5 separate regions of the Homo sapiens genome follow, and all the other regions are linked to region 5. A link means that fine-mapping ties the variant in region 5 to the plasma level of a protein whose gene starts in the linked region. Region 5 holds a variant in brackets. A gene starts in each other region. All regions are shown on their reverse strands.

What was found. PIP is the chance, under the fine-mapping model, that this variant and not a neighbour inherited with it causes the effect. Protein levels are from antibody-based Olink assays in UK Biobank. Linkage for the fine-mapping came from a reference panel and not from the study's own genotypes, which makes the PIPs less certain.
Region 1: IL1R1 starts here. The variant in region 5 is fine-mapped to the plasma level of the IL1R1 protein (UK Biobank, PIP above 0.99).
Region 2: it holds the start of SLITRK2, and the variant in region 5 is fine-mapped to the plasma level of the SLITRK2 protein (UK Biobank, PIP 0.98).
Region 3: ADAMTSL2 starts here. The variant in region 5 is fine-mapped to the plasma level of the ADAMTSL2 protein (UK Biobank, PIP above 0.99).
Region 4: it holds the start of DBH, and the variant in region 5 is fine-mapped to the plasma level of the DBH protein (UK Biobank, PIP 0.98).

The regions. Positions count from the first base shown.
Region 1 is chr2:102,140,305-102,145,304 of GRCh38, reverse strand. It overlaps IL1R1 (interleukin 1 receptor type 1), which reads right to left and starts at 2,559. Exons shown (of 12, transcript NM_000877.4): 1 at 2,285-2,559. RefSeq lists enhancers at 1,342-1,636, 1,402-1,696.
Region 2 is chrX:145,811,735-145,818,333 of GRCh38, reverse strand. It overlaps SLITRK2 (SLIT and NTRK like family member 2), which reads right to left and starts at 505. Exons shown (of 5, transcript NM_032539.5): 1 at 308-505.
Region 3 is chr9:133,530,924-133,537,349 of GRCh38, reverse strand. ADAMTSL2 (ADAMTS like 2) reads right to left here and starts at 2,646. Exons shown (of 19, transcript NM_014694.4): 1 at 2,433-2,646; 2 at 548-787. The coding sequence starts at 637. RefSeq lists enhancers at 1-535, 1,076-1,617, 2,158-2,699, 2,700-3,239, 3,240-3,781 and a silencer at 4,040-4,129.
Region 4 is chr9:133,632,740-133,639,351 of GRCh38, reverse strand. DBH (dopamine beta-hydroxylase) reads right to left here and starts at 2,989. Exons shown (of 12, transcript NM_000787.4): 1 at 2,642-2,989. The coding sequence starts at 2,980. RefSeq lists an enhancer at 989-1,724.
Region 5 is chr1:220,824,379-220,830,990 of GRCh38, reverse strand. It overlaps LINC01352 (long intergenic non-protein coding RNA 1352), which reads right to left and starts at 1,736. Exons shown (of 4, transcript NR_110797.1): 1 at 1,549-1,736; 2 at 84-298. It also overlaps the pseudogene RNU6ATAC35P and the pseudogene LOC124900455. The variant T/G (reference allele first, on the strand shown) is at 3,191.

The DNA of each region.
Region 1 (5,000 bases), not on the chromosome of region 5:
CAGATCCTTGTCTTGTGCCACCAGCCCACCTCACAACCTCAAGAAGAAGAAAATGCAAACCAAGCACCCATTCACGGCAACAGATGGGTAGCATCCTGGAGCTGTGCCATGGCAGGTGAGCCACAGGTGCCCCTGACAACTTCTTTTAAAATGGCAAGAACCTAGTATATCCATTATGTAGCATAAGAATATAAGGATCTCTGTACTTCTCCACCCACTATGCTATGGTAGTTTCACCGCAATTGTCCAGCTTTGCCTCTCTTATTACTGAGATGTCTTCTCCATAATGTCCCAGCTTGCAGGTGGACACTCAGCTCGCACTGATGCATCCCAGCCACAGGGTTTCCATCTGCCCTGGTCCCTGTGCATGGCCAAGCCACAGAGTGTAGCTCCACCTCCTAGAGCTCCACATCCTAGGAACTGAGGCAAGGGACACCACAAACTTGGAGAATAGCAGCCCTGCGATTCTCTAGGGAACCACAGAGCTACATCTGTGCCCATCATCTCCTCGTCCTCTCCATTGGGGCTGCTGAGTGGTGTCCTCTAGGTAGCCAGTGCATCCACACCCTTGTACAAAGGGGCGGATTTCAAAGACCCCCCTTTTGAAGAGAGACTGCTGACATCCTATGTCTTACCAAGAAGACTCATGTCCATAAGGGGACAGAGGTTTTCACTTGTCGTATTCACCGCTGTCTCCCCACCACTCACCACAGTGCCTGGCACATAGTAGATAGTCAATAAATCTTTAATAAATTAGTGAATCTACTATTAAGCAGTGTTTCAACAATGGTGAGAGGTTGACTCAAAAGATGTCACAGGTTTCAGAACCATAAAAAAAAAACTTGATGTCACATTATGACATACAAGCAGGGCCTATTAGAAATGGGGGTGCTGCTCTGGGCCTGCCAAGGTCATGTGAGAATTCAGATCAAATATCCTTTCCTGAACAGCATGGAGGCCACATGAGAGTGGACGGGTGCAGGAGACGCTTCACACACAGCAGCTTGGCAGCTAGCCAGAGACTGAAAATAAATCAGAGTTCCACACCCCTGCCCCAGCAAACCCCATTCTCAAAGGCTCTACCTTTCTGTCTAGCATAAACGTTAACATCGGATATGAATACAGAATATTAAATGAAATATCAAATGAGATATCACACAATAAATTAGAAGGGATTGAGAAAGAAAACAATGCCAATAGCCGCTTGGTAAACTGGATGGCAAAAAGGACAGTGAACGTCCCCATGCCACCTCTGGCTTTCCTCAGCTCATCAATAGTCATGGAGTTCTGTTTCATACATTCAATGTCCAGAAGCCTGGCACCAAACCGCAGCGACTGAGACATCCATCACATTCCCGTGACGAATGGACCCTTGCTCCATGACCTCAAGAGCCCAAGTTCATGGTGTCCCTTGCCTCAGTTCCTAGAATGTAAAGCTAAATCACAGGAATGTGGCCATCTGAGAAGCTACCCTGCCCCAAAGATAAGGCAGTGGAGAGACAGCCCAGCAGGAGCCAGCATCTGCGTGCCTTCCCAGCGGCCTTCCTTCCTCCCGGCAGTGCAGAGGAGAAAGCCCTGGCAGGCAGGACGAGTGGGAGGGAAGACAGAGGGGGGCTGCATGCAGAGGTCTTACCCTCCTTCAGGACATCATCCTCCAACAAGTTGGTCACCTAAACTTCTGCTTCCCCCGCTGTAAAACAGGGGTGATGACAGCACCCTCCTCACAAGACTGTAGGGAGGGTAAAAGACCAGTTGCTGTCAAGGGCTTATAAACTGTAAAGTGCTGGGCATGACTGTTGTAAATAATGAGTGTCTTCTCAGCGCCTACTTGCTTGTAGCTACATTCCCTAGCACCATCCTTTATCTGGAGGGGCAACAAGTTACCCTCCCCAGTGTGGTTAAGGCCTCAGCCCTTACCTTGTTAAGGAGACTGACGGTCCTGAGCCTAACCTCTAAGAGGGACGCTCCTGAACCTGTAGAACGTAGCCGGATAGAAAACCTGAAAGCCATTCACACGGGAAGTCACACACCTACCTAGAACCCCCCTCCAGAACAACTGGCAAGTTCCTTCAAACGACCTGAACAACGTTAACTCTTGCTCCACACAAGAAACACACACACGCAGACCTCACCGCCATCCCCTTCTTACACAACACACTCTGACAACCAAGTGCAACTTAGGGAGGACGCTCACGGCGTCCTGCAGAGCGGGGGACTCGAAGGTGTCAAGGCTGTGGTCCGTCTCACCCCTACCTAGTCCCCGGATGCTCCAGCTTCCCCGTACCTGGACGGACGGCCGTGGAGGGTGATGGGATCCCAGCCCCGGGCGGAACCCGGCTCAGCTCAGAGGGGCGAGAGCCCTAGGAGCCGAGCGAGGAGTGCTTCGGTGCGCGGGCGCGCGATTGTCACATTCCTGCCGCTCCCTGGGGCGCGCGGGGCAGGCCGGCGCCCCCACCGCCCGGCCCGGCCGCTCTCCGGCTCCTCCCGGCCGGCGCCGCGCGCTCCGAGTCGGCTCCGGCCGCCGGCCACAAGCTGCGCCCGCCCTCGCGGCCGGGAACTGCCGGGCGCGGCTCTGGCTCTAGCCCCGCCGCTGCGGGGGCGGGGAACGGGCGGAGACGGCTCGGCTGGGCCAGTCCGCGGGCTGCGAGCGAGCTGGCCGGGTGTCCCAACTCTCCACCCGGAGGAGCAGGCGCGGCTGGACAGACCCCTGCGGACACCGCCCTGCCCCGGGTAGCCCGCAGGGGTCCCGCCGGTTCCAAAGCATTGGAGAGCTGCCGGGCGCTCTCGAGTCGCGGCCCGGCTCCTCCAGGGCTGCGGCGGCTCCACTAGAGTTAGTTGAGACAACTCACCTAGCCACTACGACCTGGCTCTACTACCCCCATGGAGCCTGGCTGCGACCCGCGAATTGAGTTGGCGACTCCAGGGCATCAGATCCCGAAGCAAACGCTCGCCAGAGCGACCTCTGGAGCTTGGTGCCTGGCCAGGGGCTCTCTCCGACTGGCTTTGTGCACTAATTTCTTTGTACCTCCGTTTCCTCTTCTGTGAAAAAGGGATCATAAGAGCACTCATCTCATGGAGTGGTTGAAAACAGTTTTTTAAAAAAAATGAGCTAATACATATAAAATAGTGCCAGGCCCAGAGCTGATACTACTCACGCGTTATCTGCTGGTTTCATTGTTGCTGTTACGCGCCCGGATGAAAAAAGCAATTTAAGTGTCATACTATAAAATCTTGATACCACACTTGGGGGCAGACAGGGTTTTTAAATTTTTAAACTTAAAACCCACTTATGCCCACCAGCTCACTTTGCCAATGAGAATTCACACCCAGGGGAATGGAAGGATGGCCAAGGTCATGCAGCGAACGAACGCCTGGCAGGATCACACCTTGGGCTCCTTGCAGGGAGAGGAGGGGAGGGCGCAGTGGTCGAGTCTGCAGCTCCCTCGGGCTTTCCCCCTCCACTTCGCTAGTCTTCAGCAAGTGACTGGCCCCTCCAGCTTGTTTGGAGGTCTTCATGGGCCATCCTCCAAGAAGAGTTTTAATAAATGATGATAGCTTCCTTCCTTCTAGTACACACCGCCCCTTCCTGCATCCCTTTCAGACTGGGCAGGCTCTTGTTCTCGTAACCCACCCCTGGATATGCCTCTTCAGAAACTCAAGAATTGAGGTAACCTGAGCCTCAGCTGCCCCCGGACAAATCCAGGCTGGAGGAAAAGATGAAGGAATGAGCAGCAGAAGCTCATCTGCCCTAAAAGCTGTCTTGCAACCTGGCATGATGACAATTTCTCATTCTTAAACAATCTGTTTCCAGAAGCTTTTATGGTTCCTTTTCCTCGAGAAAGCAGGCTTACATCAGAGGCCAGTGACGTAGCATTAAGAGAATTCCTTAACAATCCCAGCTCTCAATATTCCTTTATACAGCAGAAGGTCTCACAGCCTTGACTCCACTCAGAATCACCGGAGGACATGACACTCCTGTGTTCAGATCAGTCACGTCAGAGTCTCTGGGGCTGAGGCCCAAAAGGCAGTGTTTTTAAAGCTCCCAGGTAATTCCAGTGCAGCTGGGGTTGCAAGCAGTTGTTCCTCTAAGCTCCCACAGTGATGCCATTACTGTGAATCCTCCAACTGAAGGCTGCTTCAACCACGTGTCCAAATGGCAGTTCTGAAAGCTACAGCAGGTGGGCCTGGCTCCATGCTGTGGAACCAGCCCAGAAGCACTATGATGGTGAACATAAATTCGTCCTTCCATTTTCATAATGAAGGTTTTTAAGCAGTTTACAAGTAGAAAGTGAAATTGATTTGTGCAACCATGTAGAAATAAAATCCGTAATTTTTGTCTTTTTTAAGTGTTGTCCCCGTTCAGCCACTCCTACCCAGTGTCCTGCTAGACATGCAGGCCTCTAGACCCAGGTGGGACTCTCAAACACCCGCCCAACACAGAAATGGAATTGGAAGACCTCCTCTTTCTCACCTTATTACCACTGTTCTATCTGGGACCTTCAAGTCACCTTCTCCCTCACTCAGCCATCCTGACCACTTTCACTGACTTTCTCCTTCCCTTTATTTCCTTTCCTTGGATAACTGGTGTGCCTGCCTGTCTCACTCCATCCCCTGGGTAGGAGGCTTCCGTAAGGTGGAGACTGTCATCCCTGTATCCCTATCTGCTCTGGTCTCAGCACCACAAAAATGCTCTGAGCACATCAACATGCTTTAGTGTAAAGCCTACTGCTTACACTGACATTGTATGCTAGTGATGCAATCCAATGGCCCACATCTTGGACAAAAACTTACAAGAAACAGAAATAGCATTGTTAGCCTCTGGACACCTTCCGGGGTGTCTCCCTCCCACCTCTGAAATGCTTATCATTCAGGAGACTTAACTGAGACCCTGTCCCCTGAGGGTTTTCAGTTTCTCCTCCACTTGTCTAGCTGATCAGATCCCAGGACCCTCTTTGGGAAGAGTTTCTGATAATGCACATGAAACAAAATCATATTGACCA
Region 2 (6,599 bases), not on the chromosome of region 5:
GCACTGCAGGCCGACCGGAGGCTTCTAGCTCGCGCCGGGTGCGTGGGCCCTCCCTGGCCGCCTGTGCCACCCCGCTGCGCGAGGCGCGGAGCCCGACCACGCCCGCGCGGACGGTCCCGGGGTGAGGAATCTCCAGTGGGGATTGAGGGTAGAGGGCGGCCGCCAGCGAGCTGCCCTCCGCGGATGGCGCCCAGCCTCCCCACGCTGGTGCCCCTCGCAAGGAGAGGTGGCCGGGAAAGGCAACGGACTGAGGAAAGCCGGCTCACTGGCCGCGTCGCCACCGCGTCCCTGAGTGCTCAGAACTTACCGAGCGAGCGCGCCGCCCAGATCTTTTCCCGGAGGCGCCCGCAGCATCTGCGACTCGGGGAGGCAAAGGAGCCGGCACCGCCTCGGACTGGCGCAGCCCAGGAGCGAGAGCACCGCGGGGAGCGCGGGCGGCGCCCCCAGGGCAGGCAGATCCCCACCGAGCAGCTAGCCAACGGGCAACGCTTCTTGCAGGAAGGAGGGAGGGAGGCGAGAGGGAGGAGGGAAGTAAAGCGGGAGGGAGGAGAGGGGAAGAAGGGAGGGAGGAGGGAGGAGGGAGGGAGGAGGGAGGAGGGAGTGAGGAGGGAGGAGGGAGGGAGGAGGGAGGGAGGGATCGCGTCCCCCCTCTCCCTCACTTATCAATCACCCCACAGATCAAATATCCGGGCTGTGCACCCAGGACGGGGATGTAAGAGCCCACAAAGGAGCCGCTGCTCCATTTCTCTGACAAGCGCTGCGGAGCACTGCTCACGCCTCTCGGTCCCTCTTGCCTGGAACTCTGCCCAGCCCTTGCGGCTTCCACCCTGGGCTGCAGCTCGGGCTCGGTCAAGTGAAATAAGAATGGCACACGGTCGGTACCATGTCCAAGGGGAGACTAAGACTACTGGGTGGAAGTTAACGACAAGTGAAAGAGCAGTCAGCCATCCGAGCTGGACACCCTCCGGGACAGCTGCCTCCCCTAACTAGTAAGCGCCCAGTCTTTGGGAGTTCGCAGGCAGATATTTAAGAACCTCCTACGAGGATCGTAAACAAGGACTTTCAACATAAGATAGAGCTGAACTTGAGTTGTGCAAGTGTGTTAACAAAGCAAGCCCTTAGCAGCGTTCCAGTGCCCATTTTGATTCCCTTTATTCTTCACGACGACGTTGCCTGGATCTTCTAGAGCGTGATTTTTGCCATCCTCCCTTCCCTTTTCTCCTTTCTTCTTCCTCTTATTAGTAGTCCAGGTGGTTGTGATTCTATTAAAGGAAGGCGCTCTGTGAAAAGAGTCAGTGTAGTTCAAGAGGGAGGTGCGGTTTTTGCCAAGAGCATTGCGTTTCCCCTCAAGACTTGCTTTCTCTAGGGCCTCTCCTCTACTCTTCCAGAGTATTCGAGATAAAGTTGCAGTTTGATAAATTTATGCCAGGAGTAGGGAGTTCATTTGATGACACTAAGTCATTTTCCCCTCCATCCTGTAGGAGAACGTCATTAATTCAAGTCGTTGCCACCCCCTATCCTTTTCATGCCCGCTAGAGTCTGCAAAACCCCAAATCCTTCTTACTGTCGAAAAGCGTGATGGTGGAGAGCAGACGGGGAGGCGAGGAGAGAGGTGCAAAATTAGACGCAAAATTACCTCTCCAGCTAGTGGATCTGCATTGGAATTTGTCTGTTTCCATATTTCCCATGCCTTTCAACTCGTTCTCACAGCACTGACAACCACCTTTTTCTTGTCCTTCCCGTGGGAATCTTTTGTGCTTCTCCTGTCCTCTCTTCTTGGCTTTCTTTCATAATGGTTTTCTAAGGAGATTATGCTGGGCTTTTTAAAAAGAAAACTACTGGCAATCTTATATTATGAAGATGTACAGAGTTTGCTTTAATAATAGTCGGAAGAATTATAATCGTATCTTCGGAGTTGTAAGGGTCATTACTGTTCCTTTTATTTCATTCTTGAGAAAGCCTTTTTGAAATCTTCCTACCATTCAGATAAGCAACTTCGGAATAACATAGTTCTCACATAAGCACGTGGGCAGTGTATGTACGGTTATATATCCAGAAGCATTGCTCTTCTTTTTACAATATCTGTATTAGTGTAAACATCCAATGTGCTGTTTGCTACAGACTAAAAGCAGTGCACTGAGCACATCATATTATTAACTAAATGAGGTCAGTTAATACTGTTACTTCTGTCTTTACCGTATTTCTGACTGTGTCATCTTTTCATGTCGCTTTTAGTAGATGTTATAAACAACTGCAAAACACAGAGCTAAGAGGCCATTCCAATACAGAAATAATGAGACAGTCATGCTGAAAAACTCAGACAGTTTACTAAGAAGGGTGATGTGTCTGTAGCCAAAGGGAACATACAAAATAAGCAAAAACTTCTATACAGAGTAGAGAAGGAACATGGCATTAATGATGAAAAGTGATACTTTATTTAGATCCAGTAGTAACATGTAATAGATGGCATGCATCAATTTTAATTAGCCTTGTAAGCAAGTCTAACCTGTTCACCAGCCTTCGAAAAGCATTTAGCAGCCTGCCTTTCCACATGGGACCACACTGATAGTAAGACAAAATTAAAAAGAGCAGACTTTTCTTTTTGTCAGCATAAAATTTTCAAGTAGGTGGATAGCTGTGCTTTGAATGCACAGACACGAAAATTGATGAGCAATATAAAACTTTCTGAGAGGGTTTTGCATAGACAGTTATAATGGAGGAGAGTTTGAAGTCTGTGAAAAATTTAAATATGCCAATTTATTTGAAAGCTGCTTTATGCTGAATTTTCTAAAAGCTTCTGTGTTAGAGGAAAATTTCCAAATAGAATTGAATACTAGAGACACCATATTAATGTACTTCTGTTCATTAATAAAAATCACATTATTCTTCTTTATACTAGCACTGTAAATGTATCTTTATATCCATGTGCTGTTTTCTTTTTGAAAAACTTTTATTTTAGGTTCAGGTGTACGTGTGCAAGTTTGTTATATAGGTAAATTGCATGTGGTGGGGGTTTGGTTTACTGTAAGCTACTTTCTATTGTGAAGTTCGTGTTACTAAACAACATAGAGATCCCGATTGGAAAACTAGTGGAAAAACAGAGAAATAAAACTAAATCTTGCCTGGGTTTTTATAATTTCATTCTAAGGTTAGAAGAAAACCAGAAATTTCACCTGCGATGAGTGAGATAAAAAGCGCATATGTTTCCAGGATGATGTAAAGGATGTCCTATTACTGTGTAGTACGTAATTTACCTGAGAATGTTGCTTTTTCAACTTCTTCACACCTATCCAGAACTAGAAAGCTTTAAAACATATAAAAGAAGACAAAATGTGCTGCATTTTCAGTGAACATAGTTTCTTTCCAACCAAAGGTTTCAAAGAAGAGTGCCACAGAACAAATTCCTAAATAAAGAAACGCAACAAAGCGGACATGCCCTTAATATTAGTAATTATAGTTTACAGGATATTGTAGACTTTTGTTCCTGATGTTATTGAAAAGGTGGATATTTTTCAATTCAATTCAATTATTTGGATTATTTGGCAGGCATTTTGGCCTGATTGAAATAGTGCTGGGCCAAGACCCAGGGCAGTTTTTCTTTTAATCAAATACATATCCAAGCCCTTGGAGCCCAATGACCTGGGTTCAAATTCCACCCGTGCTACTTTCTCACAATGGGACAAAAACAGCATTACACCAATTTCAGTTCCCCATGTGTAAAACTGGCACCTGCTATGTGGAGTCAGTAAGGATGGGATGTATACAGAACTCTTGAAAATTGAACGGTGGTACATGTATGTGCAAATAAATCTTAAACTAAAAAAATTTTTAACTCACTTCTTAAAATAAATAAGTTATACAAAATATTTTATATCTGTTTTCTATGTTTCTCATGACAATCCTCAACAGGCCAGTATGATTAGCCAGACTTTACAAAAGAGGAAAGTGAGACTCAGAAAATTTAAGTAACTTACCCTTACTCCCATTCTTGGTGAAATGGTTGATTTTAGTCAGAAACCAACATCTTAATTTAAGTTGGATAACAGAATTAGCATTAGAAAAAATATTTATGATTCTAGTTGGAGCCATGTAATGTCAAACATTTAAAATAACTTCAAAAAAATTCCATCTTTCATTTTACAGATGTTTTCAAATAGTTACATATATGTATACATCAGGGCTCAAACTCAACACTGTTGATATATTTGGTCAAATGATTATTTGTTGTGGGGGCTGCCCTATGCAATGTAGAAGGATTAGCAGCGTCACTGGCTTTTGTGTGTGTGTGTAATGTGCATATGTATACTATATATACATACGTGTAATTATATAAATGTAATAAGTAATATAACAATATATAATGAAATATTATTCTATTGTAGTCGATTTTTTAAATGCTTGGCTGTGGCCCACTAAACTGAACTCAGGAGTGACTGTAGATTGCCTCTTACAGTTTGAATAACACTGCCACGCTGGAATGGGCAGGAAAGGAAGGAAAATGGGATAGAAAGGAGAAAAGAGGCAGTAGATCAAGAGGGGAAGTACAGAAATAGAAGGAAAAGACAACTGCATGTCTTACAAAGTTATAGAAAGACTTATGGTGCCCCCATCAATTACACCAAGTGCCACTTATTAATGATACCTGTTCTCTAAGGGCTCTGGCTCTCCCTCTTTTTTGACTGAGTCCAGTGATTTATCAGTAAGAACCACATTTAAGCTTACTAGACTTGGGAGCACATATACATGGCAAAAGCCACAAATTTAACAGATAAGGCTCAGGACAGCATTAGTAGGTATTTCATCTATCCTGACACATTCTATCTTATGAATTTTGCTGCAGCTGGAAGTCATATTTTGGTTTGGAGTTACAACCTAATGTGTTCAGGAGGAAGCCAAATTTATTAGGTTTGACATTGCACTTTATTGGAATGGTATAATGCAGTTGAGCCTCTGTAATAAGTTCTGTTGATTTTATTTATGTATTTATGTTTGGCTAGTATAAATATATGGTAAAGTATGTGCTGTGGTAGAGAGTTTAATGCTGACTCTGCTGGAAAATTCAAAAATGTCTGCATAGAAGATGCCCAGTTCTAAAGAGTTACGGTCAGAGGAGCAGCTACTCAGGATTTGCACTAAGTAGTTCTGATTTTTAAAAATGTCATCATTTGTGAAGAGGACTAGTCTATTAATATGAACAAAATGGCAAGGATGACATACCCCAGATCTACCTGAAGTTGTGATTTGCACAAAATGAAGCAGAGTTTCAAAATTGTAGGTTTAGAAATGAGGCAAGTAAGATCTAGAATGTAAATAAAATCATTTCCAGTAATAACTGGATGCCGCATTCAACCATCATTGCAAATCAATGTGAGGAGAATGGATGTTTTTTACCTTGAATCCTGATGACTTATTACTCAGATGTGATATCAATTATTTTTGTCCCCTTCTATTTTTCATCTCCCAGGCAGTTTCTTAAGTGACAGTACAATGACATTTGGAATACAACCCTCTTCACCTGATTATGGTAGGTCAGGTAACCTCTTAGTCAGATGTAACGGCCCCAGGACATATATTAAGTAACTTTTGCATCTGCCTTTGGTCTCACTATATTCCTAAGCAAATTGAAAAGAAAATGAGCCTCAAGTTTTATGAGTTTTAGATTACCTAAATACACCTGAAGTTCTCTTAGAAGAATAGCCTGAAGTGTCTCTGAGGTGGAAGAATTATATGCAGCATCTTGAAAGCATCACTTTGCGGGAATCTCAGGAAACCATGCCAATATTGAAAGCATAATTATCACCAAATTTTTCTTCCACCGTGGGCATCACCACAGCAACACAAGTACAGGAGTGGGGTCAGTGTCACTTTATTAATATTTTGAAAGGAGGCAAAAGCAAGCTTATTTTTTTTTGCTACACATCGTTGCTTCAGAATAATAAATTCAGTATGCTGATCCTTTAGCTTTTCATATATAGGTCTAGTTGACCGAGGTTAGAGAATGGCACAATTAGAACTGGAAAATTTATTTGCCTTAATTTGAATATATTGAACTGTTTAATGTATTTTTCAATAAAAATACTAATATGTAGGGAGCGCTGTACATGACTGCTAAATGATGAACGCTGGTTATTATTTGCAGCATGGAAAGACAACTGTCAAATTAATGAACTGATGTTCTGGTTACAATTTTAAAAAATATAATCACTCAATTTCAGGTAACTCCTATACTTGAATATAAATAAACATTGTATAACAATTTTGACTAAACCTGGATCCCTGCTGTAAAGTTCCAGTTGCTTGGAATTCAAATGTCATATGATTTACTGAAGGTTCTGAATGGATCTGCTTTGATTTATATTGCAACATTGGGGTGTATTGAATTCCAATGAAATTGTTGATTTGTTATCTTTGCTATGGCCATTAGCCAAATTCATTCTTGAGCTGCAGTGGTGATGTAGATCACAGCTTACCTGGCTTCATCAAGTTGTGTTTCTCTATGGTTTTTAAGTATGTGGTTTGGCTAAAGTAGAGTTCAAGGACACAGATGGACCATAATACCTATATTAAATTAAACATCCAACTTCTTGATCAATTTTCAG
Region 3 (6,426 bases), not on the chromosome of region 5:
CTGCCCCCACCCCATGCCCGAGGGTATCACCGTCAGCGGGACCAGAAGACACAGCCCCCTGGCTGGGCCCCCTTGCAGGGTCACTCGGCAGCTTGGGTTCAGATCTCCTGGGTGGCGCTGGGGGGAACTCCCAAGGAACCGTGGGCCACGGGTCCTCCTTGACCTTAAGGTCCAGGATGGCCTGGGGGCTTGGCAAGCTCCTGGGGCCGCATCTAACTGTCCTCACTTTCCCCGGAGCAGCTCAGGGCCCAACTGCGTTCTGCAGGACACAGCCTACCCTGGCCGTGCTGGGGCCTTCACTTGGAAGGGAAGCACTCAGCCCCCTCAGCCCTCGCCTGCCAAGTCGCCAGGGGCTCCACAGTAGCCAGGGCCCCAGTTCAGAGGCTGATCTGACTGGCTCTGGGCAGAAGTTTCTAGGAGCCAAGATGGGTTCTGGGACCTGGGGCACGTGCCCACACGGCTCCCTCCAAGCCAGTCCATCTGAGAGTGATCACAGCACCTGGGTAGGGGACTGGCATGGGCCCTCAGACCACAACACCCCACTCACCGTGGACCCGGTTGACACTGTGTCCCCAGCTACAACTGCCAGAACCAGCAGGAACCAGGCCCAGCAGGAACATTGCCATCTGCCATCCATCCTAGGAAGCAAGGCCACTGTCACCACCAGGCCAGCTCCGATCCTCTTCCAGATGACCAGGGTACGCTTTGGGAAGAGCCCTCGGGGCCCAGCCAGTGCCCAGGCCTCAAGGTTATCTGGGACTAGTTGGTCGTGGTTGTCTGGCAGACCCTGTTGGGAAGGATGAACCCCCCGCCTCAGTCTAGGCTTAGCAAGAAGGAGCTTGGTGAATGATTAGTAATGCCTGCTTCAGGCAAGACACCCAGCGGCGGTGTGCGTGCTAAGCCTGTGCCACCCTTGATCCAAGGGCATGCAGGGAAGCATGCCATGCTTTGCCTCCAAGTCCTCAAGCCCCCTAGAGAAGGGCTGTGGAGACAGCCAGCCTCGGCTGAGGGGGCTGGGGACCCAGGCGGGGGGAAAGGCTCTGGTTCGAAGGGATGGGCCTGGGCTCAGTCCAGCGCCTTGGCAGGAGCACCTTGGGATTTTAACTGGCTCAGCTCTTGCTGGCCTCGCAGGAGAATGGCCTCTGCCACTGGCTGCTAGGGTCAGTGCATGGGGATGGGCTTGGCCAGGTCCCGGGGGAATGTGCAGCCTCGCCCTAGACCAGCAGCTCCACAGTCAGCATCCAGCAACAGCCGGCACTCAGGTGAGGCAGAACCCAGGTACCTATGCCGCCTCCCGATCCCCGGAGAGAAGATGGAATTGGGGGAGGGGCAGGGCAGGAGGAGGTGCAGTTTGTGCCAGCATGTCAGCAGTCCAGGGCCACAAGGCTGACTTCCTCCCAACAGCCAGCACCCTTGGCTCAAAACACCTGCCAGGGGTCAAAGCAAGCCCATTGGAAGGGACTGTCCAGCCTCCAGGCCCTCAGCTCTCCCCACCCCCTCCTCAGCGTCGACCCTGCCCTGTGGAAGGGAAGACCAGAGATCCACCATGACCTCTGTCCAGGCCTTGCTCAGGTGCTGAGGGTCACTTGCCAGCGAGTTAGAGAAGGGATTTCAGAAACCACGCAGCCTGCACTCATAACCTGGAGCCCAGAGAGGGGAGCCAACCTGCTCAAAGCCACACAGCAAGGTAGCACACTAGCAAACTCAGGGACTCGACCCCCACGCCTGGCCAATTCCAGGGGAAGAAGGCATGGAGGTCACCCCTCACCCCTGCCAGGCCAGAGGCCAACTCGGGCTCTGCCCCTCCCTCCTCAGCAGCCTCCATCCAACTTGAAGAGTTTCCTTGCAGGCCCGGCACCTGCAGATTTTCAGGGGCCACTCCAAGGACACCACTGCAGCCCGGACGACGCAGCAGTGCACCCTGGAGTGGGGAGCCTGAGTCTGACCTCCCCTGCCCCCGCCGCCTGCCCCCCACCTCCCTCCCCTGCAGACCTCCATCTGCACTCTCAGCCTCACACCCACAGGAGCCCCCTCCACTGTGCCATTGGCTAACGGGTGCCCCAGCCTCTGCCTGCCGGCTGAAGACAGGTGCCAGCCGGCCTCACACTTGCTTTTTTCATTAAGGCTTCCAGACACCACTGGCTTCTGGCCAGGCCTCGCTCACGGGGATCCATCCCTCCCTGGGGTCCAAAAGCAGCGGCTGGCGGCAGCAGAGAGGTCTGCCGTGCACACAGAGCTCCGGGCGCACAAGGCTAGGTGCTGGGAGGCCACCCTGCCCCGTGCTCTGCGGCCCGACCCCTCCCCACAAGCCTCCCCACGTTATGTAACGGCTCCAGAGGGCGCGGGGTGCTCCTACCCCCAGCCCCACTCTGAGCAGTGGGCTGGCCTGGTGGACGCTGCAACGTGAGGGGGACGGGGACGAGGTGGCCTACCTGGCTTCGGGTCAGCAGGTTGTCCTCCCAGAGAAAGGGGCGAGCGCTGCGGAGGGCAGACGGCGCCAGGTGCGCTGTGCGTGCGGGGGCGGCGTGAGTGCAGAGGCTGCGGCCCGGCCTCCCTCTCCCCTTCCCCTCCTCCCCCGCGCCGCCTCCCTCTCCCACTTCAAAGAGCATCCAAGAGAGGGGGTTCCCGGGAGGGGCGCAGCCCAGTGGCGGCTCTGCGCCGGCGGCCGCCTTTATAGCTGTCAGGCAGACGGGGAGGAACACTCACACTTCCCACCAGGCCGCTCCCCCGCCCGCGCCGGCCGGCCTGGCGCACACTTTAACCCGCTCTGCGCCTCTGGAGCCCGGCCAGGCCGGCCCAGCTGCCTGTTGGCTGCTGCCGGCGGCGGCGGCCCAGGAGCGGCGAGCAGGGAGGCCTTCTTCCCGGGTCCAGAACTGGGGGCCACATGTCGGGTGTCCAGACGGAGCAGCCGCTGGCCTGAGGTTACCGGGGAGGCTGGCGGTGGCAAAGCCCCAGCCCCGCCTGTCCGGCTTCTGCCTCCAGAGCGGGCCCTGTCCCTGGGGCTCCTGAGAATGGGGTCTGGGATGTATGAGGTGTCCCGTCTGATGGCTCCGTTGTACGGAGGGAAAGGCTGAACTTCCGGGACGACCGTGCCCCAGGTCACGAGCCTCAGAAAGCTCCCGAGATGCAGGGGCCTAAGCAGGTGGAGGGACGCAGGGAGACCCAGCGAGAATGAACCAAGGGCTCCAGGGAGGAGACAGATGTGCCCGTGGCCTGCTGACCAGATGGCTAGAGCAGCCAGGGCCAGGGCAGAGAGGCTCAGGGATTCTGCAGATGTCCAGCACCAACTTGGCAGCCCCTGGCAGGCCAGGCCTGGAGCTCAAGCCTCTGTTCCTGCTGAGTCAGGGCACAGAGGGGAGCGAGAGTGGGTGGAGCAGCAGAGCCCCCCTGGGAAACTCCCGGCGGGCCCCAGACTTTGTGAGGCTTTCCTAAAGCAAGGCTGGGCACCTAGCCTCTGCACACCAGCTTCCCCAGAGCCCATCCTCGGCAAACAGAGGCACCTCCAAAAAGGGGAGGAGGAGGAAGCTGGGGCACCATTCCATCAGGTCATCTGTGTCTTTTCATCCATGCCCCTGCCTCCATGCAGCAGATGTCCTGGGCCCACAGCAGTGCCGGGAAGACACTTCTCCTTCCCTCTGTCCTCCCTGCTGGAAGAAACTTGTGAGTTCCTTCAGCTGCCTTCATGAGAAAGTTCTGCCCTGTGTCTGACCACCCACCAGAAAGGCTGGGAAGGAAAGCCACCAGTAATAGTAGTGAAAGCGATAATACCGTCTGCCCTCTGTCCAGCTTGTCCTACGGGCCCAGAGCTGTGAGGCCAGATCCACCTTTATGATCTGCATTTCACAGGTGGAAGAACTGAGGTTCGGGGACCAAGTCACCTCTCCAGTAGGCAAGGCTGGGATGCCAGCGCTCCTGAGTGTCGGGTTCTCTCCTCTGCCGGGTTGTTTAAGTTTCTCTCCCCGGGACCCTCGGGCAGGCAAGTCTTATTCATCTCATTCTCCTGCTGGGGCAACTGGGATGCAAGGTGGCTGCTCCTAGTCACAGGGCCACCTGCGGTGTGGAACCAGGACTAACCCTAACCCTAACCCAGGCCCACACTGCCCCCTGGGGTCGCTGTGCTGAATCACAGACATGGTGGCACCTGTCACCCAGCACACACACACACACACACACACACACACACACAGGCACACACACACCCAGTCCCTCTCACATGACCGGATTACACTCGCTCTGGGTGCCTCTGCCATCCCCTTCCTCTCTCTTCTGGTGACCGCCAGGCCTCGCACCCCTTGGCACAGTCCCCGAGCTCTCCTGGCGTTTGTGGCCTCACATCCAGCCAGCGCCAGGGTGACTAACGGTTTCCCTTGGGAGGGACCCCACAGCCGACCAACACAAACACCCCCAGTGTCTTCTCTTGGCTCAGCAGGACGGCACAGGCTGCAGGCTGGCCACCTGGGAGACGGGTCTGTGGGGCCAGCCATCCCCTGGCTCTGTGACCTCCTGCAGGTGTGTGACCCTCCAGGCCCCAGCTCCCCTGGCCAGCCACACTTCCACACCACCCCCACCCCTTACCCCAGAGCCTGCAGACTTGAGGCCCACAGGGAGCCATGACTGGCACGTAGCAGGTGCTCTGGTAGCTCCTGATGCCAGGGGCTCCTTACCCCTTAGAGAGTGCTGTTGAGGTGAGTCCCCCACTCTCCAGGATCCCTCTTCGGCCTGCAAATTCCCGGCCTCTCAGGGCCTTCCCCATGTAGGATGGTCTCAGCCCACACCTACCGGCACTTGTAGGGGTGTTGCAGCCGTATGGCCCTGGTGCTGGAGACACCACCTGCCTTTAGAAGGGGATTGTTGGCCAGGCGCAGTGGCTCATGCCTATAATCCCAGCAGTTTGAGAGGCTGAAGCAGGGGGATCACACGAGGTCAGGAGTTTGAGACCAGCATGGCCAACATGGTAAAATCCTGTCTCTACTAAAAATACAAAAATTAGCTGGGCGTGGTGGCGGGCACCTGTAATCCCAGCTACTCGGAAGGCTGAGGCAGGAGAATTGCTTGAACCTGGGAGGTGGAGGTTGCAGTGAGCCGAGATCTCGCCGCTGCCCTCCAGTCTGGGTGAAAGAGTGAGATTCCGTCTCAAAAAGAAAAAAAGAGAGAGAAAAAAAAGAAGGGGATTTTCTCCGCCAGTGTTTTCCAGATATCTGAGGAGCTTAGAAATAGGACAGCAGGAATATGTGTGGGGGATGCCCGGGAGGGTGGGGTTCCAGGGAAAACACGGCGGGGATAGAGAAGCAGGCTTGAGGCAGAGGGGCTGGTGGGCCGTGGCTGACCACTTTGGAGGTTCCCTGGGGAGGATGTTAGGCTGCCGCAGTGGGAGCAGGGCCTGTCCTCACAGCAAAGTGGCCACAGCAGGCTCGGGAGTTTAAGGACGTGGCCCGAGCTGTCGAGGTGGGTCCCCTCTCTGTCACCCAGAGGCCTAGCAGGCCTGGCAAATGTATGTGTGTAGTGTGGTTCACCTAGCCGATAGGGCTGGCCGGCCACAGCCTCAAGAGTGGCCCACCAATACCACCTTCCCTGGCATCCTGCGGTTCTTCTCTGTTGCCAGCCCAGGACCCAGAACATCCTAGGAGCCTCCTGGGCAGACCCAGCCAGAGTTCTCACACCTGACTGGGACGGGGCCACCAAGGGACCATGTGGCCAGCTGGGAGGTGGCTGGCAGCCCCGGAAGAGGACCAGGACTCAGAAGGCAGCCCCAGGGAAAGAGCGAGGGGGCCTCAGCAACCCCAAGAGCCGTCCCTGTCCCCGAGCTTCCTTCCTGGCCCAGGATAGAAGCCAGCTGTCCCTGAGACCCCCCTGGGGCTGGATATACGGGAAGAGCCTCCCCCGCCTTCCCTGGCTGGTCCCAGGTCCATGCACGACCACTGGCTGGCCAGGTCACTTCAGGCCACTTGTCCCTGACAGGCCGAGTTTCCTGGTCTGTTGCACAAGGTCAAGGTCCTTTTTTAGCCCCAGACATCTCACAGGCACACTCAAGAGACAACTGAGACAAAAGCAGAGGTGGGGGCTCCTGCTTCCCCTCTTCTCCCCAGCAGCCCTGAGGCCCCTTCTGGGCACCAGGACTCCTGGAAGCATCATCTGAAAGCTGGCGGACCGGAAGAACCCCAGCCCCCAGCAGCCCCTCGGGCTCTGCTCGCACACGGCCATGACCTCCAGAGATGCCCCGTGTCAGGGATATCTGCTGGGGGCAGGAGGACATCACCAAGCCAGTGAGCTCTTTCTTCCATGCCACCCACAGTGACCAGGGGCGGGCAGCCACTGGTGTCACAGCCAGGTGAAGCAGGAAACCCAGGACCTTGGATCCCGACACTCAGAAGGGCCCCGTCTCAGAGGCTTAGCGTGGAGGCTCAGCATAGGAAGCAGCAGCTCTTC
Region 4 (6,612 bases), not on the chromosome of region 5:
GGTGCCACATCTAAGATGGTGATTGATAGCAGGTGCCCACCCTGCACTGGCACAACCCTGAGAACAAGCACTGCTTTATTACTTTATAAATACATGTAATTTTGGATTTTTTTTTTTTTTTTTTTGAGATAGGGTCTCGCTATGTTGCCTAGGCTGGTCCTGAACTCCTGGCCTCAAGCGGTCCTCCTGCCTTGCCCTCCCAAAGTGCTGGAATTACAGGCATGAGCCACCACACCCAGCCTGAAGCACCACTTTAAACCCTGCAGCCTAGGCATTGTTCCCCTCACCTTAGTCCCAGCCCTGCTTGGAGAAGGTAAACTGAGGCCCAGGGAGGCATTGGACCTGCTGCATTCTCCGAGGATGCTTCCTGGGATCTGGATCAGTGACCTCTGCCCTCCCCGTCTCCGGCCGCTCCCCTTGCACTGGGCCCTAAGGGGCAGGGACACGGTGGCCCGAGGCCAGGTCACATGGAAGACCACCAGGGAGACCCACTGAGAGACAGCGAGGAGCCTTCCCCAACAAGCAGGCTGCCCTTCGTACTCAAGAAGGGCCCTTCTTAGATTCCATATTTGTCTATTTGGCATCTATTAATTGATTGAAGGCTCAAACAGATGGTCAGAGTTGTTTACACCTGTCCTGCCCTCCAACATTCACACGTGTGTGAGAATCATATTCCTAACATTCCGACCCACACCAAGCCCATATCCCTAGCTACCTCCTCCACCTGACTCTCACACCCCAGGCCAATATTGCCCCAACCCTAAAACACCCTAGGGCCAGGAACCAGGCAACTAGAGACCACCCCAGCCACCCAGAGCCCACCAGAATTGTCCAAACGAAGCTGCTTCCCTGCCCTGCCTGGCCTTTCCCATGGAAACCCCAAGAAAGCCTCGGGCCCTTGGCCTTAAGGACTTTGGGTTGTGTTTCTTTTTAATCTTACATTCAGGGTAAAACATCTTTTCTTCATTTCCTTGAGAAAAAAGAAATCTGCAAAAGATACTGCAAAACTTTCCCTAGAGAAAAAAGCCACACAATGCAACCCCGCTGGGGACACCGCTGGTTTGCCGAGAGACTCATTTTAAACAGAGGCAGAAAGTTCGCCTGTGATATTTCAGCTGGAAATCAAGAAGATATTAGTTGAACATATTGCTTAGGGAGGAATAATAAGGCTGACATTTGCTTTCGTAGGAATTTGTTGTGCAAATTAACCTTGCCAGTGCACGGAAAGGCAAAGTCACCTGGCTTCCTCTGGCTTCCCTAGCAGCCGGGAAATGCAGGCAGGGGGGACGCTGCCCCAGAGAGGAGCAAATGCTCCTGCACTCAGGGTGCCTCATGGCAGAGGCTTGCGAAGAACCCCAAACTGTCAGCGATGGGGTTCAGCTGCTCCTCCAGACGGCTGACGGCTCAGAATCAGGGCTGTCCCAGGTCTTTCTTGGCTGGAACCTGAGCCACAGAGTGTCTTTGTGCACAGGAATCTGTGCAGCCCTATGGGTCAGAGCAGGGCCCTTCCCAGGCAGCTCCACTCACCCTACCTGGGTGGCCCTAAGCCTCACTAGCGACACAGGCAAGTGCCTCCTGGCCGAGTCTTGGGAATTGGAGGGGGCAAGCTCAGCTCCAGAAACAGCAGCCACCATCTGCCCTCATGAATTCACAACACCCAAAAAGGCAGAGAGGGACTCTCCGCCCCACCAGCCCATGGTGAGACCAAGATGCAGAGCTGGAGCCGGCCGCTCCGCACAGACACAGCTCCCCCGCTCCAGCTCGGCACTCCCAGATAAAGCAGGCACCTCCTGACTTCAGAAATAAAACTTTTTTGTCACTCCTTTGTGTGTTTCTGTGGAGAGAGTTGGGTTTCATCCACAAAGAAGCCCTGGTGGCCAGTCCCATGTGGAAAGGAAGGCTGGAGCAGGACCCATTGTAGGCGGTGGGCTCGCCCACTTCGGGGACCCCCTGCAGCTTGTGGAAGGGCCTAAAGTCCCCTCCAGTTTGAAGGGAAACTTTTCCCCTTTCTCCACCCTGTGAAACAAGAGTGGAGGTAAATTTGGACGGAAAGGAGTCAAGAGCCCATCCTAACAGTTTTGGCTGAGCCCTGTGGGGCTTGTTCAACACCTATGGGTAGGGGCAGGGTGTCTGCACCTGCTCAGTTGGTCCACGGGTACAAGCACAGTAGGTCAGGCTGGATCCCATGGGTGTGCAGGCCTCATGCTGTGCCCAGCCACGCGCCACCACCTGGCCCACATCAGTGGGCATGTGTGCTCTGGGGACGTGGTACTAGGCATTGTTTACAGGGCCGAGGGTCGTGGGGTCTGTGCTCATGCGCGTGTGGGGTGTGGAGCGGCACGAGTGTGTGTGGTGTGTGCGTCCTCTGTGTATAGTTCCATTCCTTGGGATTACTGGGTCCCATGATTTGGGGCGGGCAGTCAAGGACCATGGAAAGCATGTCTTTCCTATTTTGTCCTCAAACTGAGATCCCCATGATGCCCAAGCTCGGGGTGCAGACTTGGCTCAGAGCAGAGTCAACTCAAACACTGACAGGTGACAGAAGAACTTTCTGGGTTAAGGAGGGTGAGTGCAGAAAGACGGCCAGATGGGGTGCCGGGTCAGGAAGGGTTTGGAGAGCTGGCAGGGAGGAGAGACTCACCGCAAAATAGGCAGTGTCCCCATCGGTCCAGAGCACCACGAGATCTGCGTTCTCAAGCTCGCCACGGTCGGACATCCCAAACAGGACGCCAGCCTTGAGCCTCCGCACCAGGAGCTGGAAATGGATGGCCTCCTGGGTGTAGCTGACATTCCATGAGAGCTCCAGGGACCCCTCCGGGTCCAGGGGGATGTGATAGGGGAGGGGGCTCTCACGGGGAGCCGAGCCCTGCAGTGCGGCCACCAGGATGACCAGGAAGATGGCCACTGCTGTGCTGTACATGAAGGCTGCCTCCCGCATGCTGGGGCCGGGCAGGCTGGCCCAGCGACTGAGGGCGGGCATGGCTGGGGTGAGCTCTCTGGTCCCACCTGGCCATTTATGCCCTGGTCCTGAATGGGGTGGGTCCAGGCAGCACGGGTAATCACATTTGTCTAGCGGGGAATCCAATTTTCCCTCCCACAAGCTTGCGCCCCAGGCCAAGCACTCAGCCTGCTGCCCTCCTCTAATTGGCACTAATGACACATGGACGTCATCAGTGGGAGTTGAAGTAGACAGGCGGATGCTGTCCCTTCTGAGATGGCTCTGAAGAGCTGTCCCAAAAGCAGATGCACCCTGCAGCCAAGAGGCCTTTCAGACACCCTCTGGCCAGGCACCAGCTGACTGCCTCACAGGCTGTCTGGCCCAGTCCCCAGTGGGATGGGGTCTGCGTCGCCTCTACCCACGGATGAGCAGACTGAGGTCCGAGGAGCTGCTCCAGGCTGACCAGTGAAGGATAGGCCCGTAGCCACTGCAGGCCTGGCCTAGCGAGCAGAGCCGTTTGTACAATACTAGCAGGTGGGCCCATTTCAAACCAAAAATAAGACAATCTCCAAATAGTCCCTGTGTTTAGACACTCTCTCCACGGCCTGCTCTTCCCACTTTTGTCTCCTCTCAATTTTTCCACAGCCTCCAGCTGGTACCACTGCTGCTCCAGAAGGCGCGAGAGCATCATAGGGAGTGGGGGACATGGGCGTGGGGTGCATTGCTGGGGACAGACGGAGCTGGAGCTGCACAGGGGATAGGCAGGCTGCAGGGTGCACTGCTGGGGGTGACAGCCTTTAAGGAAAAGAGGGTGAGTGACAGGCCTGCTCCCCTGTCTCTGAAGCTCCCAAACCCACAGCTTCCTCTTGCCCAGAGCAGATCTGGCCTGAATTTGAAGCCTCTCAGGGCAGCTGGCCGCAGCCCTGCTTCTCCCACACCTGCCACAGGACCTTTGCCATCATCCACCCGTGGGCCCGAGGGTCAGTCTCACCACGGCACCTCTCCCTCCTGTCCTCTCCCACAAGTAGACTGAGGGCAGCTGCCTTCAGGACATTCTGCTTGATCCCTCCAGCTCCACCCCCCAGGCTGGGTTGACAGATCTCTCCAGCTGGACTAGAAGCTGTCCCTCCTCCCCAGCCTCCTCCCTCCCTTCCTTCCTTTTCCCTCCTGTTTCTCGTCTCTCTGGAGAAACCCAGAATCTAGCCTTAGGGGCACATTCATGTCATAGGCTGACAGCAACATTTAGGTCCTTAAATACCCATGACAGCAGGTCTGGAGGCTGCTTCAGCTCTGAGCTCTACGCTGTAGAAAGGAATGACTGTGTCTTTGCACGAACGTGAAATTTGGAGAAAGTGCCAGCCTTCCCCTGGCCCTCGCAGGCAGTGCTCTCTGCCCCACAGTGGCCAGGCCATCCTGCAAAGCCAAGCTCAGGCCATGAGCCCCTCCCCACTGATTGCACCCAGAGGGGCACCGTTCGCCCCCACCCACAGCCCAGGCAGGTGAGGTCCAAGTGCATAATCACCTGTGCAATAGAGTGTGGCATTGGTGTGAAATTGTCTCCCAGGCCAGGGGAAAGACACTCTTGGGAGTTCTCTGGTGAGCCTTGGGAAGGGTCTCAGCCTCCGAAGGCCTGGCTTTCCCATCAGGACATGCCACCTCCGTCGCCTGAGAGCACCTCACCTTCATGCCTCAGATTAGTTCCAAAACCTCCTCACCTGTGCCTTGTAAGCAGGTGTCTGCTGCATCCCGGACATTCACTCTCGGGACTGGGGAGCGGCCACAGCGAGCCGGTGATACGAAGAGCCTCCGGGGTGGGCAGGCACTGGTGTTCCCAGCACGGGATAACAAAAGCCAGCAGAGGCAGAGGTGAGGGTCACGGGCTCCACAGCACACCCAGCTCAGGGGTGAGCCCTCCCAGCAGCCTGGTGGCCACCCAGGTGGCTCCAGCTAGACAACAGGCTAAACGAGCACCAGCTGGGGCCCGCGTTGTGGGAAGGGGGGCACCTCTCTCCCCTCTGGGGTATTGAGGCCCCAGGCACCCCTCCTGCTCCTCCGGGGTCAGAGCTCTGGGGTCATATCCTGCTCCGCCCTCCTGAATGCGCAGCTGGCGTCCTCAGAGAAGCGCTTTCCAACCCAGCGCCTCCTCCCCATCTACAGACACAGGAAGTTGGATGACAAGGACAATTGATCCCTCCAGCTTCCTTCAACCCAGCGGTTCTGTGGAGCGAGAGGCAGTGAAGAGCCCCTGATGCTACCAGCCCTTGGACGGCTCAACACACCTCCAGGCCTCGCTCCTCTCCCGGATACGCCAAAGACCAACAGCTGCTGGGAGCTCTAAGGAGGGACGGCAGGTGCGGTCTCGTGCTCAGCAGTGTTATGCACACATGTTTATTTTTAACAGGAATCAAAGACATTTTCTTTATCCAACTCAAAACTGGCTTTCCTCTAGCATTTGACAGAAATGATTCAGCTGATTCCAAAATACTGATAACTAAGTCCTAGGGAGGGACAGGAGACACAAGTCAGGCCGCACCAGGGCTTCCCCTGCCCTGCCTCCATCCTGGCCAGCCTTGGGTGGCTGGGTGTGCGATCATCCCTGTCTCAGACACAGGAGAGTCAGCCTCGGAGAGGCGAGACAATGCGCCTGAGCTCACAGGGTGGGCCAGTGCCTGGGGCAAGCACCCCAAAGAGGGTGCCCTGAGCTGGAGGGGGCTGCACACCTTGTCAGCCAAGGTCAGAAAAATTCCACTGGAGTCAAGAGGAAGGGACGCTCAAATGAAAAATGCAACCGCAGAGAAAATCTGCGGAGACTGGGGCCGGGCGGGAGGGAGCGAATCCAATCGGATGGCCCCGTGGCTGCGCCCTTCCTTGCATTAATGGATTTTAAAAGGGAGCAATCCGACCCCAGGGTAAGGAAGCAACAGTCAGCTCTCCTCCTGCCCTCACCCTCCTCAGAGGTGACACCTGCTTGCCAGGTGCTCTCTTGGCCACATGCCTCCCTGTGGTGCCCCGCGGGGGGCTTTCCTCCCTGCTCCCACCCCTGCTGCCTCTGCTCCAGTGTCTGGGTGCACGTTGCCCTCCAGAGGTGGCGGTGGGGGTGGGGATGGGAATGGGGGTGGGAGTGGGGTTGGGGGTGGGGTAGGCCGGGGAGGTGCAGGGTGTCACGGCCACGGTGTCAGGAAATAAGCCCCATTCCTGCTGCTCAGCGCCTGGCTTCCCTCCAAGGCGCATCGACGGCTGACCTTGTTTAGAACCAATTTCAGCTTTTTAATAAGCCCTTTGCTTTCCTGAATCTCTCTGATGCCATCAGCCTTTGCAGGCTGTAATTCCCCATCGCCTCTGCCACATGAGGCTGGCTTCTGCTGACGTCCTAACCTCAGGCAGTGACAACCCCAAGTGGAGCGACGGTGGTGCAGACTGGAGCTGGGTGAGTGAACAGGCCAGGCCACTCCCCAGTGACAACGGGGCCTGGCCACAGGACAGCACTGTCCCTCGCCTGTGGCTCAGGCTCTTAGGGACCTCCTCTTGGCAGGAAAAATTCAACTATCAGTCTGATGGCAGTGCCTAGACCTGACTTGTGATGGGATGGATTGGGAGCTGCTGGGAGACGGTGACTCTGTCCATCACAGAGCCCACTCCAGGGTGGCACAGTCCCCTTGGGGAACTTGGGGCAG
Region 5 (6,612 bases):
AGTGCAGTGTCAATGAATGCAGGATTGAACCAAGCTGGAGAGAGGGAGGCTGGCCTGCAGAAGAAGATATCCTTTACTGGTACCTGAATTGGCTCCTGCCAAGTTTATCTCTGCTGATGAGGAAGCTTTGCCTCTAGTTTCTCTCCTGAGAAGGGAGAGTTTCAATCAACCTTGGCTTTTCATAAAGGACTTGGGGCTGCTGGCTGAATAGCCTGTGTGTTGGGGTTCACCCATGGGGATTTTCAAGGAGGCCTGAATCTTCTGATCCATCCAATCTCTCATTTTACACTTGAAGAAACTGAGGCTGAGAAAGGGGAAGTGACTTGGCCAAGGCCACACAGCAAGGTCAAGATCCAAGACTAAAACCAATTGCTTCTCTGTTTTGCTTATTACTACAGCACAGAAATAAAGAAATAGAGAATGGGAGAGGAGAGGTAGGTGTGGGGAGGCGATATGAAAACATGGAACAAGTGCTCTGCTTTTAGAATAACTAGAACTTTGAGCCCAGAAGATTTCTTTTCTTTTAATAAATAAATGTTTTATAATCTTACTTCTGTGGCTGGTGGGAAAAAAAGTCCTTCAAGTCCCCAAGGAATGTTAGGAAAACCTCCATTAAATTCTAGTCTTCAAATCTGAGTCATAATAACTATAATAAACTCTGGGAGTGTTTCCTTAGAGTTTCTCTTTTAGGGTGGAGAGGAGGCAGCAAAAAGAATAGGCAAGTTTTCACAAGAAAAACTTGTAAATAGGCAAGTATAACAAGAAAATGTATAAACCGGGATGGCTTCATAATTAGGCATAGCCTAATTGTGCTTATGTGTCTAGTCAAGAAACTCTATCTAGAGTTCCAGGGGAAGAAGGTGTTGGGGATGAGGGAGTAGGATTGGTTTGAGGGTAGTAGACTATATAAGGCATCATGCTCCTTCCCATGGAGGGGATGTATGATGGTTAATATTAGGTGTCAACTTGATTAGATTGAAGGATGCAAACTATTGTTCCTGGATGTGTCTGTGAGGGTGTTGCCAAAGATATTAACTTTTGAGTCAGTGGACTGGGAGAGGCAGACCCACCCTCAATCTGGGCGGGCACCATCTAATCAGCTGCCAGCACAGCCAGAATAAAAGCACACAGAGGAACATGGAAGGAGTAGACTTGCTGAGTCTTCCAGCCTTCATCATTCTCTCGTGCTGGATACTTCCTGCCCTCGAACAACAGACTCCAAGTTCTTCAGCTTTTGGACTCTTGGATTTACACCAGCAGTTTGCCGGGGGCTCTGGGGCCTTCAGAAGGCTGCACTGTCAGCTTCCCTACTTTTGAGGTTTGGGGACTCGGACTGGCTTCCCTGCTCTTCGGCTTGCAGACAGCCTATTGTGGGACTTCACCTTGTGCTCATGCAAGTCAATACTACTTAATAAGCTCCCCCTCATTTATACATCTATCCTGTTAGTTCTGTCCCTCTAGAGAAACCTGACTAATATAGCATGTGTATGTGCTTTTCCCTTTGCTTGGAATGCTTGTCCCCACTCTGACCCTAAGCACCACCACAACCTTCCTTCCTGGAGCTCAGGCTGTTATCCTCCAGGGCTCTGCTGATTCCCTGGGCACCCCGCACTCTGCTTCACAGCACTCATCACATTTGTCACTTGTGTAATTTGTTGCTTATCCCAGGCTTCCGTATTACATGATAAGCTCCATTAATGACAGTGTTGTCTGCCTTGGTTTTGTTCATGATGAGCACAGTGCCTGGCCCACAGTACCAGCTCACTAAGTATTTAGCAAAGGGCTTTATGAGGTCATCCCTGGCTCCAGCACCTCACAATCTTTATGGTGACTGTTCAGAGGGCAGCTAAGCAGAAAAGAAGTTTTCAACAAGGCTGTTTCTGGCCTGTTTTCCCTCTCAGTACTACATGGCAAGTCACGTCTCCAAACTGAGGAGTGTGCCTGAAGAGTCAGGTCTGGCAGAGAAAGGATTTCTTGCCCTAGGTTTAAACAAGCAATGTCAACATAACTTCCAAAGGCATCGGCTGCTTGGAAGAAGTGAATCCCTTGGGTCATTCCCTTGATTATTGTGAACCCGTGGCTGAGCAGGACAGAAATGTCACACAGGTGGACTGAGAACAAAATGATTTCAGATATGGGAGCCCCAAAGTGGCATCCCAAGGACAAGTGCTCAGAATTGCATGACTTGGTTTTCTGTTGAGCTATTCTGTCTTGGATAATTACAGCATGAGCTCTTGGCCAGTGGTGGGAATTAATTGGTTTTAATTCTCCCGCAAAGATTCTCTTAAGTAAAAGTAAAACATTTGCAAACTGGAGTTCTTTGAGTTATTGGTAACAACTTACTTTGCACCTCATAGCACACTGGTTAATAGCCTCCGCCAAATAACTAATATTTAGGCACTTTGCTAATGTATGCAAAGTGCTTTTAAGTATTATGCTATTAAATCTTCACAACATCACAGGTAGGTATTAGCACCATCTTACCTATTTTATGGATATCCAAACAGAGGTCTTCAAAAGTTAGAAAATCTGCACAGTCACAGAGCCAGTGGAGCCACAGCTGAGGCATGGACAGGCTGCTCTCCTACCACCTGCCAGGCCGCTCTTGCCCAGCTCATGAGGTCCAAAGTTTTCTCAACAAACTGCTTGGTGTCGATGTTGTAACCTGGAGCATTGCCCTGCAGCAGAAAGGCAGGCCTGGACATTCGCATGTCAGCATGGGGCGAAGCTGATAATTTCCAGTTGGGATCCAAGAAAAAGAAAAGCTCTCCACATGCCAACAACATTGTTATGAAGCTCTCTTGACCCAGCTACCCAACAGTGATCTCAAACATTTGGTCTCTCCAGTGTGTGTATGGGGGTGGGGGGCAGCTGGGCGTGTAGCCTTGTACACTTTGCACTTGGAGAGGTAGGGACAGGGGTCTAAATTAAGGGAAACCCTGCCCAGGGGCTGGCTTTGGGAAGCATGCCCAGCAGCCATGTGGAAGTTCACTGCATTACGGTGAATTACACCAGGTGGGGTGAGTACAGGACAAGGAAGTAGAAGTCAGAGCCTGCTTTTCAAAATCACCCTGCAGGCTGTTGTCCCCAGAAGAAGAGATCAACCTCAGGGGAGACCAGAGTCCTAAACACAAAACAAAAGAGTAATAAGGGAGGAAGCAAATGAAGTTGCTTATCTCATTTATTTATT[T/G]TTCTCTCCCATTTCCGCCTATGCTCCTCCAACTGAACCCCCCCTAGTCTCTGGTTTCCTGGCCACTATCTGGCCAATAACCTCCACATTAGCATCCCCAGCCCCTCTGTGCCCCCTGTAATCTCTTCTCCAGGCTTTGCTGAGGACTGTATTTACTGCCACACAGGATTTCCGTAGGTGATAACAGCAGGGCCTGGTTGGCTTGACCCTCTGTTCAGAGCCAACCCTTGGCTTCTTATGGTGTCCTCTTACAGCAAGGGAAGAATCTTAGTTTCTCCCAAGAATGTGACTCTCTTTAAGTGTCTTACCTACACTCAACAACTAAGCAAGCCTCTTGATGAGCAGCCCTTCACTCTCACATCCTCAACACTGTGGACTGAGAATTTACATTTTTTTAAAAAGGCAGGGCACAGTGGCTCATGCCTGTAATCCCAGCACTTTGGGAGGCTGAGATGGGAGAATCGTTTGAGGCCACAAGTTTGAGACCAGCCTGGCCAACACAGGGAGACTCCATCTCTACAAAAAAATTTTTAAAAATTAGCCAGGCATGTGCTACTTGGGAGGCTGAGGCGGGAGGATTGCTTGAGCCCAGGAGATCGAGGCTACAGTGAGCTGTGATCACACCACTGCACTGCAGCAGCGTGGGTGACAGAGCAGGACCCTGTCTCTAAAAAAAAGTAAAAGATAAATGTAAAATCAGGTCTGTTCTGCTCTGTATGTGTATGGGTGCCCCACATGGAGAGCCAAGAGACATAAGAGGTGCTGAGGGGAATTTTCCAAGGCGGGTCACCCACTTACAAATCTCTAATCTGGGGACTGGATTGTGGGACGGACCTGCAGAACCCACCCCTCCAGGACTCTGACAGGCATCGTCAATCCAGGTCCCCACAGGAAGGGGACCCTTGATGGCCATTCTCATAGAACATGTCCCCACCCTACCACATTCGCTCACCACAGGCTGCTAGCTTTTCACTCAGAAACATATGTGCCTTACAGGGTGATGTGTTCTGTTTTTTAACTTCCTACTAATGTGTAATGCACATTCAGACAAGTACACAAGTCGCAAGCTCAATACATTTTCACAAAGTGGACAGACTTGGGTCATCAGCACCAGATCAATAACAGAGTATTTCCCATGGCCAGAATCTCTTGTCTGCACCTGGCCCCATCACCGCCCACCTCCTTCCCACCCAGTGTAACCACTGTCCCGACTTTGAGCACCACACATCAGGCTTGCCTCCCAGGGGTCACTCTTTAGAAGCTGATTCCAGAGATGCACAGAAGACTTTACTTTTTCTTCATCAGCAATGCCTGAGGCTGGGGAGGCTTGTGGAGCCTGATCTGGGTGTTCTGTGTTACTTTTAACTGTCAAGATCCCTAACACCTTAACACCACGTAAACCAGAGGAATCATAGGGACAGGATTATCTCAGAGAGAAACACAGCGGTGGGCAGCCGGCCAAGTGTGGAGGAAAGTGAGATGAGATCAACAAGAAGGCATTGTCAAGAGTCAGGAGCTGCAAGAGGTCGGGGCCCCCAGGGACAGACTGCAAAGAAGGCAGGAAACTTAAATATATGCTCATACTTTTACCAAAAGGAGAGAGAAAAGAATTCCAACCCCTTCCTGCAGTCTTCATCCCATCATTGTATCTTTCAATTTCTTCCCCATTCTAGAGACACTATTGTAAGCAAAGCCACACCCTCTACCTCTTTAAACACCCATTGCACAATAGAAATATAATGTGAGACACACATAATTTTTTATTGCAGTAAAAGATACATAACATTTACTATTAGTGGCATGTAGTGCATTCACAATATTGTGTAACTGACACCACTATCTAGTTCCAGAACATTTTAATCATCACAAAGGAAACCTCGTACCAATTACACAATCATTTTCCATCCTCAAAACCATGGTTAGATGCTACAAAGAAGGTGGCAATGCCGAAGTTATATGAGTGTTGTACAGGCCTCTTCCATCCTTGTCAAGGGGAATGCTAACCTTCTCTTCTTTATACAACACTCACATATGTAATTTAAAATTTTTTAGTAACCACATTAAGAGGTGAAAAGAGACAGATGAAATTAATTCTAATGCTTTCTTTAACCTAATATTATATAAGCTATTATCATTTCACATGTAATCATTATACAAAAATTACGAAAATAGCTTACATTTTCACTTGTACTGAGTTTTTGAAATTGGGTGTGTATTTTACATACACAGCGCATCTTAATTTCTACTGGCCACGTGTCAAGCACTCGATGACCACACGTGGTTAATGGCTACCATGTCAGACAGTGCAGCTCTAAACAATTCATAAGATGCTATCAACATCCTAAATCATCTTTTTAAAAAGTGATTCTTACATATGCAGAGATTCTAGGCTATGATTTTGATATAAATTTTATGAATTTTAATTAACGACATTTTAAATGGAAAAATTAATTTTAACATAGGCTGGGCACAGTGGTTCAAAACTGTAATCCCACAGCATTTTGGGAGGCCAAGACACGTGGATCACTTGAGCCCAGGAGTTCAAGAACAGCCTGCGCAACATAAAAAACCTCATCTCCACAAAAAATACAAAATTTAGCCAGGCAGAGCTGGGTCCCAGCTACTCATGAGGCTGAGGTGGGAGGATGGCTTGAGTCCTGGAGGCGGAGGTTGCAGTGAACTGAGATTGCACCATAGCACTCCAGCCTGGGTGACAGAGCGAGACTCTGTCTCAGAAAAGAAATTTAATATAAATTTACTTTCTTAATTATAAAAAATAAAATATTTGGAAGCTACAGAAAGAAAAAGTAGCTGTAAGTCCTAAAACAAGGGCAAGGGTAATCACTTTTTAGCACCAGGTGTGTTTAGGACTTCTTTGTGGTTCTTTGCTCATCATATAGCAAATGAAAACTAAATGCCAACACAGCCACTCACCCAGAGACAAACATGCAGACGTCCAAAGGGTCATGACTGTCAGCACACAAAGCCAGGCAGGGTGACCCCTGAGGACAGCGGCAGATTTGTCCCATGGCCTGACAACCCTCCTATTTCATCAGCAATTTTCTAGCAAACCAGGAGCTTGCACCAGCCAAATCTAGAAATCTGGACTCAGCCCAGCATCATGGGAAGCTGCCCTGGCAGTTTTAGGGGATGCAGTTGGTCCCTTCCACGAGGGCCCTGTGGAAGATACACCTAGAACGGTCACACCTTTGCGCCTCTGCAACCATGTGCCTGAGTGTCCCAACTCCGCCACCACCGGAGCTCCCTCCCTTGTGCTGCCTTATGCTTATGGGGGTGTCCATGAAGACTCCTTTTATCAGGAAGTCTTTAAAAGAAGGGGAAATGTCCCTTTTGTTGAGGACTCAGGCGGGAAGAGGAGTGAAAGCAATGGCTGAATTCCCTCCCATTTCAAAACTCCTTCC